Regions from separate parts of the Homo sapiens genome. Here region 1 is linked to region 2. Evidence: fine-mapped expression QTL. A gene starts in region 2. The other region holds a variant in brackets. All regions are shown on one strand. Distances are from middle to middle.

Region 1 (5,000 bases), 62 kb before region 2:
GGAATGCAAGATCCTGAGGTGTCTTCTCAATATTTAAAAATATATTCAATTATGACCAAGATAGTGAGTTCTTCTCAATTTTATTAAAACCTGACTCAAACTAAGTGAAACTCTACCAATAAAGTAACATACGTATTCCATTTGACTACAGTAGTCATTTATAGGAATATTTGTGATGTGAAAGATGAGTCGAGCTAGAGTCAGGAAGACTGGACAGGAGGAAAAGGCACTGAGGATATTAAGAGCCATTAGCTCAGTCCAGCTAATATCCAGTCCAGCCTTAATATCCTCAGTGCCTTTTCCTCCTGTCCAGTCTTTTTGACTCTAGTTCGACTCATCTTTCACATCACTAATATTCCTATAATACATCCTTGCTCAGAAACTTACAATGGTTCCCAAATGACTACTGTAGTAAGACATAAAATGACCAAAAAAACCCTAAAACCTTTATGCTTTCGTAAGTTAATCCTAACCTATATTTCTCACTTCTTAATACTAACTTGTCTTATTTTTGTTTTCTTGTGTAGTTCTTGCTCTTTACTTACTCTGCTTCCTGTCTAGAACTCCATCTCTGTTGTCTATATATCCTACTTTGTCCTTAAAGTACATCTCAGTTTGAATTTTCTTTTATGGTGACTCTAGCAAACTCCATTTTCTCTCTTTTTACAGTTACTATTTATACTACATAATTAACACCCATTTGCTGATGGTATAGGACAATCTGATCATTCATTGTGAAAATTATTTGATTATTCCCTATGACTGTGATATGTATGTATGTCTTAGTCTTGGGAGCAGGCACAATATTGATTCCCTTATCACTCAAAGCATGATCTGGAAATGAGCAGCATCAACAATACCCAGGACTTGTGAGAACTGCAGAATCTCAGACCTCTCCCCAGATTTACTGATCAGAATCTGTATTTTAACAAGATCTCCAGGTAATCTGTGTGCATATTAACATTTGAGAAGTGCTGGCTGGTTCTTCTTTTATGTACATGGTACCTAGCACAAGGTTATATAAGCAGCAGGTGTTCAACAAATAACTAGTTAATAAATTCAGAAAATTAAGACCCTTAATGATCTTGCCAGTTTCTCTATTAGCAAGTATTTAATTTTTATTAAGGTATCAAAAAACATATATAAAATAACTTGGTAAGTGTTAAATAAAGTAACGCTGGCTTTTCACTTACAATTAGCTTCAAAAAAGAATTTGCCACATGATTATGTGCCTGTGCTTGACTTTTAGCAAACATTTCTTAAAAACCATATTAATATAATTTATTAAATATAACATATTTGTTAGTAGTTTCTAATGGACATCAGCACATTACCAATAGTAAGGACAATACAAACAAAATAGTGAAACAGAACAGCTCTGGAATAAAATTGATAGCAAATTAGACAGAGGTACACTGTAAACTTACAGGAGTAAGAAATTATAAAGGACAAAAACATATATTTCTTTGACCACTGCAACTACCTGCTCTTCAGTGCTGATAGGGAGCTGAAAAGAGTCCAAATGGGAGCTAATTCTGTTCTAACTGCACTGAGGTATATTAAAATATATACTTAGGTATATTTCAGATGGTGTATATTTTCAAGAAACGCATTTTTAAAATGACATATTCTCAAGATAAAAATTTTCTTCAGCATTCCTCTGTAAGAATACATATGTTTATAATTGTATTCACATGGAATGATGCTCAACTGTTTAAAGTACTATTGACCATATTATTATTACTATTACTTTTAAGAAAATGTCTACCCAAATATATTATCTCTAACTCAAAGTCTAGCATTTGTGTAGTCAGCAGATAAAATAATTTAAGCTTTCAAAGTGTCTGTACATTATATAAGTAAAATGTTTCTAAAATTATAACTGCTGTATAATTAATTAACTTGGATAAAACATAACTGCCAAAATCTTACCTGGTCCAATAGAGAAAACCTTCTCAAAATCAGCACAAATGCACATTTGCTTATATAGCTGTGGGGACTGAGCCAGGTATGCATTATTTTTAAAATATGACACAGTAAAAACATTGGCTCCTCCTTCACTGGCAGCTGAAAGGTAAACATTTATATTTATATTATTATAATCAATTGTAA[A/G]CTTATCAATGCAAACCTCTAGTTAAAAAGTTTATACTCAGGTAACTCACTTTAACAAAAACTGGAAAATGAAGAATTGTGGCTAAATCACAGTCTATATACATCATCTTCTATGTGATTCTAAATAGTTTATATTTAAACCAGATTTACTTCTTTGGCTATGCTTTTATTTCACTTCTGTGGATATATATGCTCCCTTTCTGCATCAATTTCAAAACTATTAAAGCCCCTTTGGAGTTGTTAAAATTTTTTTTTTAAAATGAAAAAATATATTCTTCATCATTTTTCCTCTTTTAAAAAAATTTCCCCAGGAGCTGGAATAATCATTCTTCTTTTCTTTTTTTGAGATGGAGTCTTGCTCTGTCACCCAGGCTAGAATGCCGTGGCACGATCTCGGCTCACTGCAACCTCCGCCTCCCAGGTTCAAGCGATTCTCCTGCCTCAGCCTCCCAAGTAGCTGGGACTACAGGCGTCAACCACCGCGCCCGGCTAGTTTTTGTATTTTTAGTACAGACGGGGTTTCATCATTTTGGCCAGGCTGGTCTCGAACTCCTGACCTCGTGATCCACCCACCTCGGCTTCCCAAACTCCTGGGATTACAGGCATGAGCCACTGCGCCCAGCCTGGAATAATCATTTTTCTAATTATTAAGAATGCAATGTTCAATTGTGAATTTGTAACAAAATGCCATTTGTAACACACTTTCTAGTGTTAAACAAATCTAAAAAGGGTAAAATGATTAAGACAAGATTCTCATACAAGAATAAGAATTAGCCAGGCGTGGTGGCTCACATCTGTAATCCCAGCACTCTGGCAGGCCGAGGCAGATGGATTACCTCAGGTTGGGAGTTCGAGACCAGCCTGACCAACATGGAGAAACCCTGTATCTACTAAACATACAAAATTGGCTCGGCGTGGTGGTGCATGCTTGTAATCCCAGCTACTCGGGAGGCTGAGGCAGGAGAATCGCTTGAACCTGGGAGGTGGAGGTTCGGTGAGCCGAATTCACAACACTGCACTCCAGCCTGGGCAACAAGAATTAAGGAAATTTTCCCATCATTAGTATTTACTGATTTTACAATGCAGTTTATACAAAACAAAACTGCAATACTAATTTCAAAAGAAATCTATATAATGAAAGTAGTTCCTGGTGTAAGTTCTGTAACAAGAATCTTGCTTTGTGTGTTACTGCCTCACATTACAATCATTATCACAAAAGGACTCCTGGAATAAGAAAATGTACTTATTAAGGTTGGTGATATATGATTGTTGCTATATAAGATGGTCTTCAAAATAGTAGTCTCATGGCAATAAACCTTAATGGACACTTGGGATTCTCAAGTTAAAAATTTTATTAATATAAAGCAACTCTGGGGAGAGCAAATTTATTTTTAAAAATTAAGAGAAATATTTTGAAGCATACCTGAAATAATTTTAGGAGTTTGGATTTCCACAAAACCTTTGTTAATTAAAGTTTCTCGGAAGAGATGGCAGATGCCAGACTGGAGACGGAAGACTGCCTGACTAGTTGATGTCTAGAAGACAGTAATAAAATCTAATTAAATCAACGTACTTAATTACTAAGCACTAACTCTGTGGGCTAGGCACTGTGGAAACCTAACAATTCTTGCTTTCAACATTTTTAAATTCTAATAATTGGAGAGAAGACGAAAGGACACGAATAAATACAAGGCAAAAAGGCATGCTGGAATACAATGACTATATATGATCATATAAAGGAATTTCACCGGAAATCCTTAGTGAGCAGATGTTTTAATTTGTAGGAATTCCATAAAAGAAAAATGTTTCTTAACAATTAGTGAAACAACTTACTTGTGAATGGTCTGTTTTTTTTAAAGGCAACCAACCCATAAAGTGAGACATAGCAATGTTTGTGCAGCATACTAATGTTCTAAGTAAGATTTTGGTATTTGACAATAAATGAATAAAAACCATGTATTTTTATTTTAACCATTACAACAATACAATTGCAGATACTTGTGTATTTGTTCAATTAGATTAAGAAATTAAAAAGAAAAAAATACAATAAAAGGGGTAGGCATCCCATGACACTGATTTCCAATGTGGTACATAAAACAATAGTAGCGCTCCAACTGTGCAGCACAGTTGCCTGTTCTTTCTATTCTCTCTCTTTCCCTCCTTTCTTTCTCAGTTTCTCTGGTCCTCCTATTTACTTTTAGCCTCAATCAGTTGTGATGGTGACCAGAAAGCTCTAGAGGTAATTATCTCTACTTTAGACTAACTTTTGTCCACTTCTCTGGTCAAAAGAAGTGACTTCTTATCTTTAGGTCCTGGCTTATTATATTTTTAAAAAATAGCTATCCTATGACTAGGTAGGTGTTTAGTAAAACATGTGACCTCAAACCACTAAGTTAGCTGTGAATAACTGAGTTAGGTGAAGAAGGTGTCTTCTTAGTCTCATTACGAGAATTTCAATTACTTCTCCCATATCAAAGGGCTCACCCCTTCTGCATTTACACAGTAGTACCCTGTGAAAACACTGTTAATGGAATGATTACATTTCTTTCACTCTAAAGAATGATATTTAAATAATCTTGAATTTCTGCAGATCAGATAAAAACATTCATGTAAACTGGTCATATTTAAGTAACATTATTTTATAACTTACATTCAAAGTTACAAATCAATAGTTTCTCATAAAACAATAAAACCATTTCAAAGGTCTTTATAATTTATTAGATTACTTACTCATTTTCAAGATGTCTACATTTAAACTATAGAAAAAGACTTGCATTTTTTTCACATTATGTGGTTTAGTGAAACGTCTGGTTCATCCAATCAAAACAAATGGCATAATCTTCTGCTTTCAAAAGCCTAGTGACCTATTTAGCAAAAAGCTGTTTCAC
Region 2 (5,491 bases):
TGGTTCTAATCCCAAGTCTGGCAGACTCTGTGTAAGTCAAGTTTCTTATCTTTCAACTTTGGTTCCTTAGTTTTCAAGGATGCTGTAGAGAATAAGTGAAAATATAAATGTTTGGGAAGAGTCAAGCAAAATAGGAATAAATAATAGCTAAAAACAGTCAGAGAAGTAAAGTTGTGGGGGTTGGGGGAAGTAAAAGAGGTAGCTTTATTAAAGCATGCAAAAAGGCTACATGTGATGAAGGCAGTTATTAGCCACTCTCCTATCTCCTAGACAACGGTTGAATCTTACCTAATAATTTAGGAATATTTAAAAAATATAATCTACCATTTAAAACATACCATTTAACCTACAATACCTAATAACATTTTTTTTCCTTTTCTAGAGTTGGAACCCTAAACTGACAATGTTTACACAGGGTTATGACATCTACTTGGATTATTAATGTCATTTAAGCTTTTCAGAATTATACCTTCAGATTTATGCCAACCTTACTTAAAATTTCATTTAGAGCTTTCCTGGAATTAGAAAGCAAAAAAGCTTTATTTACTGTCACATAGCTACTAACCTGGTTTTTCTTGTGATTGTATCATTGAAGATATTCCATATCTCTCTTTAGCATAATCCTACAAAAAAAGTTTTTTGCATCGTGACTTTTTATGTAAACACTAAGAGCACAGTAAACACATAAATACTAATAATAGAATATAAAAATGAATTTAACTTTCAGGATCATTTTATTAATTCAGAAAGTCAGTAGTTTCATAATGTGGAAATCTCTCATTCATTTACATATGTACTCTACAGAAAACAGAAAAGTACTGTTTCTGGTTAGTTTGTTTTGAAGATCACCACTCCTAGATGGATTTACCATACTTAATAACATTCTCAGATAAAATTTACACATATGTACAACACATCTTAACTACCTTCTTCAAAAAGATGAAACTACTTCAAAGCAGGGACATAAATTTCCTCTGTGAAGGGAGTAGGATGAAGTACCACAGTTTTATTAACTTCCTATTACAGGAAGAAATGTTCAAAGAGAACCAACGTTTTGGGTAAGCTTTCTGAGCACCAGATGTCCACAGTTTTTAGAAACTGGAGATGCTGGGTATAAGCTAACTACAACTTTCCTTTTGTAAAACATCATCAAAAAATTCACCAGCTTCCTGTTTCTAAAAACCAGATTCAGGATACCAGGTTACAGGAGTTTGACACTGACAATATAATAATATCAAATTTCTTGTTACAGATTAGAGTTAGGAACAGGAAACAGAAGACCTAGGGTCCAATCTGTTAACAAAATATACTTATTAAATAGATAAGTGGCCTTTATTTCAATCTTACTTTACCTCTAAAATGATCTAAGATTCTTCTAGCTATAAAATGGCATAACTCTGCCACAATGTCTACCTTGTATCTAGACCTATACTATCTGTAAGGGTACACTGATAGTTTATGTAATTAAGCAGATTAAGAGTACACAAAAATAATTGCCCTAGTTTTTACAAGGTAACTTAAGATCTGTATGAAACAATTAAGTTTCTGTCACTTTACAGCTACCTGTTGGAATCCTCTCCTTTAGAGCAGGAGGGTGCTGGATTTTGTGTTTACACCAAAATAAAACCAGACATGTTTAAGGCGCTTACTGAACAATTTAAAGAAAAAGATAACCCTGGCCAGAGTAGAGAGATACAGTCACACAATGAAGCCTGAGGGCAACAGAAGGAGATTAAATTGTGTGAAGGACAAAAAAGTTGCATTCATAATTAGTACTATTAATATTTCAGTGACTCTTCCTCATTTAGTATTCTAAGATGACCTTACTTCTCATGTTGCTTACCACAAACTCAGAACTCCTTATAGAAAAATTAGGGAGCCAGACGGAAATTAAGGCTTAACAGTACTACAGCACACATAACTTGTAGGATGGTTTCAAACTTTGATTTCTGAAAAGCACCGAAGGATCACTGGGTGTTATGAATTATCCACGTGATTTGGGGTCACTTCACCTCAAATGCATTCTCGGTAACTCCTATTACCTACCTTACCGGGTCACTGAGAGGGAGAAAGTAAATAAAAATGACATGTGTTCTTTAAAGCTGTCACATGGGAAATGGTCATTAAACATATTGGCAGATGGTTTTGCTAAGTACTGTCATTACTTGCTAAAGCATTAGGAACACGAGGGCTGAGTACATATCGATTACTAGTGCTTATTAAAATTTTCCCAGGGATTGTGCATTACGTGCAGGACGTGCCTAACCCAGAGAGACTCAAGTGTGACGCCGCGCTCCTACTTCCGGGGCGGCTGGTTCTTCCCGTCCTCCCCACCCCGGGGACACGCTTCTAGTAGGCCAAACTCCCAGGTGACCCCCGCAAGAAACGCGGTCCGGAGAGGGTCTGGCCCCACTGCTGGGGCAAGGGCTCTAGGCGCCCGGACCCCACGCCCGCAGCCTGCGGAGAACGTGCCGACAAGGACCTGTAGGGCCCCACTCCCCCTCCTCCCTCCCTCGGCGCAGCCCGGCCCAGGGGTCTGTCCTCCCAGGCCCAGGAAAGGAGGAAACCCACTTCCGCCGCGTCCATGATCTCCCGCGGCTTCTCCTGACTCTTGCGGCTGGCGCTGGCGCTGGGCATCGGGACACGGAACTGGGCAGTGGACACCACCCTCCCTCGCAGGCTTCCGTAAGGCAGGCCAAAGGGGCTTCTCCCTCCCTCCCAGTCTCCGCCCTCCCGACCCTGGGGTCTCAGCACACGCGCTCGGACTCCGCGTGGAGGTGCGGCTCCAGAAAGATCGCGAGAGCTGCGGCTATCTCGAGATCCCGGAGCGCTGGCGGCCGCGCGCAGGGTCTCCTCCCACTCTTGCCCCGCCCCTCCGGGAGTTTTCCCGGAGTTGGAGGGAATTCCCGGGAATTCGCGGTAGTTTCGCTGGATTGGCTCTGGGGGCGGGGGCAGGGGTTACCAGGTGGCTGGCTGTAGACCTGGGCGAATGCCAGCTCTCTTCAGCTTCGTCCCAACTGCGACTTCTGCTCCATTCTTCTAACAGCCCTTTCAACTCCGCTCGGCTGTAACCGCAGACTCGTCACTAAAACACCCACCTAAGCGCGGGCCTTGGTTTCTCCTCTCTTGGACTTTCCCGCCTTCTCTCTTCCCCTGGGCGACGTAGCTGCTTGGGGACGGAGGAGGCCTCTTCGCAATCCATTGCCCTGCTTGTTGGGACAGAGGAGTGCAGTTGGCTTGCCAAGGCAGCATGGGTTACCAGTCCCTGTGTAAGTGAGGTGTAAATACAGTGGCAACGACAACAAGAAACGCATACAATTGCATTGATTGCCTGGATCTGTTGCAGTGTTAGGGACAGTGCATAGTGTTGGTTGCCCAATGGGCGAATATCCCCAAGTTAGGCTTTTTTAAAAAACTGATTTTTTAAAAAAGCTATCATTCATGAGTTTTGAATCGAAATTGAAAATAATTTGGAGATTTGGTTTAATACTGTTTCCCCTGCCAGAGTTTGCACTCCGTCGTTTCAACTGACTTGGTAGTGTCTTAGTCTGGCACAAAGTGTTAAGGGGTGCACATAGATCCCAGCGCAAGTGAAAGGCTCTCTCTGGAGGCTCCCCCATGGAGTAGTGAGAAGACAGCCATGGTCCTTGCTTGCCTGTAGCTTTCCTTCTAATTGCAGGTGGTATGAAATTTTATTCCCTATTTAATTGATCAAAGATTATTTACAAACATCTACTTTGTGCCAGGCATTCTATCAGGTGCTGGCAATAAAAAGATAAGTCCTAGTTCCTGTTCTTAATATTACACAGGTACCTAGGCTGATAGATGCGCCATCTTGATACATGCTTCCATTATTACAGAGTCAGGAAGAGAATTTAGCTCTTAAAATGGCTGCCTGGAAGTGACACATTTCACATTCTCCTAGTTTATTGGCGAGAACAAGTCACATCGTCATTCCTGAGTTCATGGGGGCAGGAGAATTTACTCATTCCTTGGGGAGCAACACTGAATATTCATGATCAGTATCACATTCCGTTAAAAAAGGCATCCCATTATACTCATGGGATTCGAATACAGAAGGGGGTCTGTGAAGTTGCTTCATCTTGGAATTTTTTTTAAAACTTGGATTGCCTCAATCAGGTATAGTCCTAATGTATGGACTGGTTATCAGAAATCTGAATACAAATCCCATCTATTATCCCTTTGCTAGGGTAGCGATCTTACCTTTCCATCTGTCCATGAGGCCTGTCCATGTACTTCTTTCTTACTTTGGCCCCGTTGCCTTGATAAAAGTATTCTTATTTAGTCCTGGAATAAGACTGTAAATATATATTCTTGTTTCTGGCCTCCTTTCCTGATAGTGATAGAAAAGAAGCATTTGCCAGATCAGTGGCCACATGTCATATGCCTGAGGTCTTAAGAATCTGCTGTAGTAAAGATACCACAGCTGCAACTGAGGCTGTGACTTGGTTGAACTTGCAGTAGTCTACTGTCAAGTTCCTGAATTTGTCTGGTTTTTGCTGGAGCCACACCGGTGACAATAGGAATGTGATGGAGACTACCAACCATTACGTCTTTAAGGGTTGCACTGATCTCCACTATTCCCCTTGGGGACATGTTATTGTTTATGATTTCCTATCCTAGTTGGGGGCTGGGAAAGTGACTTTTAGAGATTTCCTCTTAGCTTTATCCGGTATGGTAGCCTATTCCACAGACCAAAGAATAGGGGAACAGCTCTGCTATGGTGCTCTGGCTGCTTTGCAGGATCCACATAAGCCATGTAGGCAAGGGCGGGAACTGCAGCTAACCTGAATCTTGGAAAAACATCTTGTGATCCTGCTGGAACATGAGAGGGTGGAAGGCCATCTCCCACTCACTTCCCTGTCTCCCTGAGAGGCTGTTATGGGATGGTTTCTTACTACCTCCTAGATTCTGATGAGGTGTGGGACTTCTTGCCCCCTTCCCTCAAGGGAAATGCAGAATACAAAAATGTATATAATATCTTACTGCTTAACTGGAGTCTAGAAGTGGCTGTTAAGCAACAGAGTGTCCCACTACTCATGTTGCAGTCATTTGGTGCCTTTTGTTTCAGTGATGTCCTTAATGGGACAAGAATCACAGGGAGCTGGCAACTTTGGCTTATTCTTCTTTCTCTCTCTCTTTTTTTTAATTTAATTTTTTTTTTTTTTGAGACAGAGTGTCCCTTTGTCTCCCAGGCTGGTGTGAAGTGTCATGATCTTGGCTCACTGCAACCTCCACCTCCCAAGTTCAAGTGATTCTCCTGCCTCAGCCTCCCGAGTAGCTGGGATTACAGGTGCCCGCCACCATGCCTGGCTAATTTTTGTATTTTTAGTAGGCATGGTTTCACCATGTTGGCCAGGCTGGTCTCAAACTCCTGACCTCAGGTGATCCGCCTGCCTTAGCCTCTCAAAGTGCTGGGATTACAGTAGTGAACCACCGCACCTGGCCTTTTTTTTTTTTTTTTTTTGAG

What was found. PIP is the estimated chance that this variant, and not a neighbour inherited with it, causes the effect.
Region 1: its variant is the best candidate, but not a certain one, in a credible set for the expression of DARS1 in whole blood (INTERVAL, PIP 0.57).

What each region holds. Positions count from the first base shown.
Region 1 is chr2:135,920,852-135,925,851 of GRCh38, forward strand. It overlaps DARS1 (aspartyl-tRNA synthetase 1), which reads right to left. Exons shown (of 16, transcript NM_001349.4): 8 at 3,536-3,647; 9 at 1,933-2,067. It overlaps LOC124906078 (a long non-coding RNA gene), which reads right to left. Exons shown (of 2, transcript XR_007087246.1): 2 at 4,262-4,976. Among named protein-coding and RNA genes, the nearest start is that of MCM6, 47 kb to the left of the region's middle. The variant A/G (reference allele first, on the strand shown) is at 2,113.
Region 2 is chr2:135,982,832-135,988,322 of GRCh38, forward strand. DARS1 (aspartyl-tRNA synthetase 1) reads right to left here and starts at 2,795. Exons shown (of 16, transcript NM_001349.4): 1 at 2,572-2,795; 2 at 566-623. The coding sequence starts at 2,637. It overlaps DARS1-AS1 (DARS1 antisense RNA 1), which reads left to right and starts at 2,345. Exons shown (of 4, transcript NR_110199.1): 1 at 2,345-2,685. RefSeq lists a silencer at 2,432-2,491 and an enhancer at 2,542-2,641.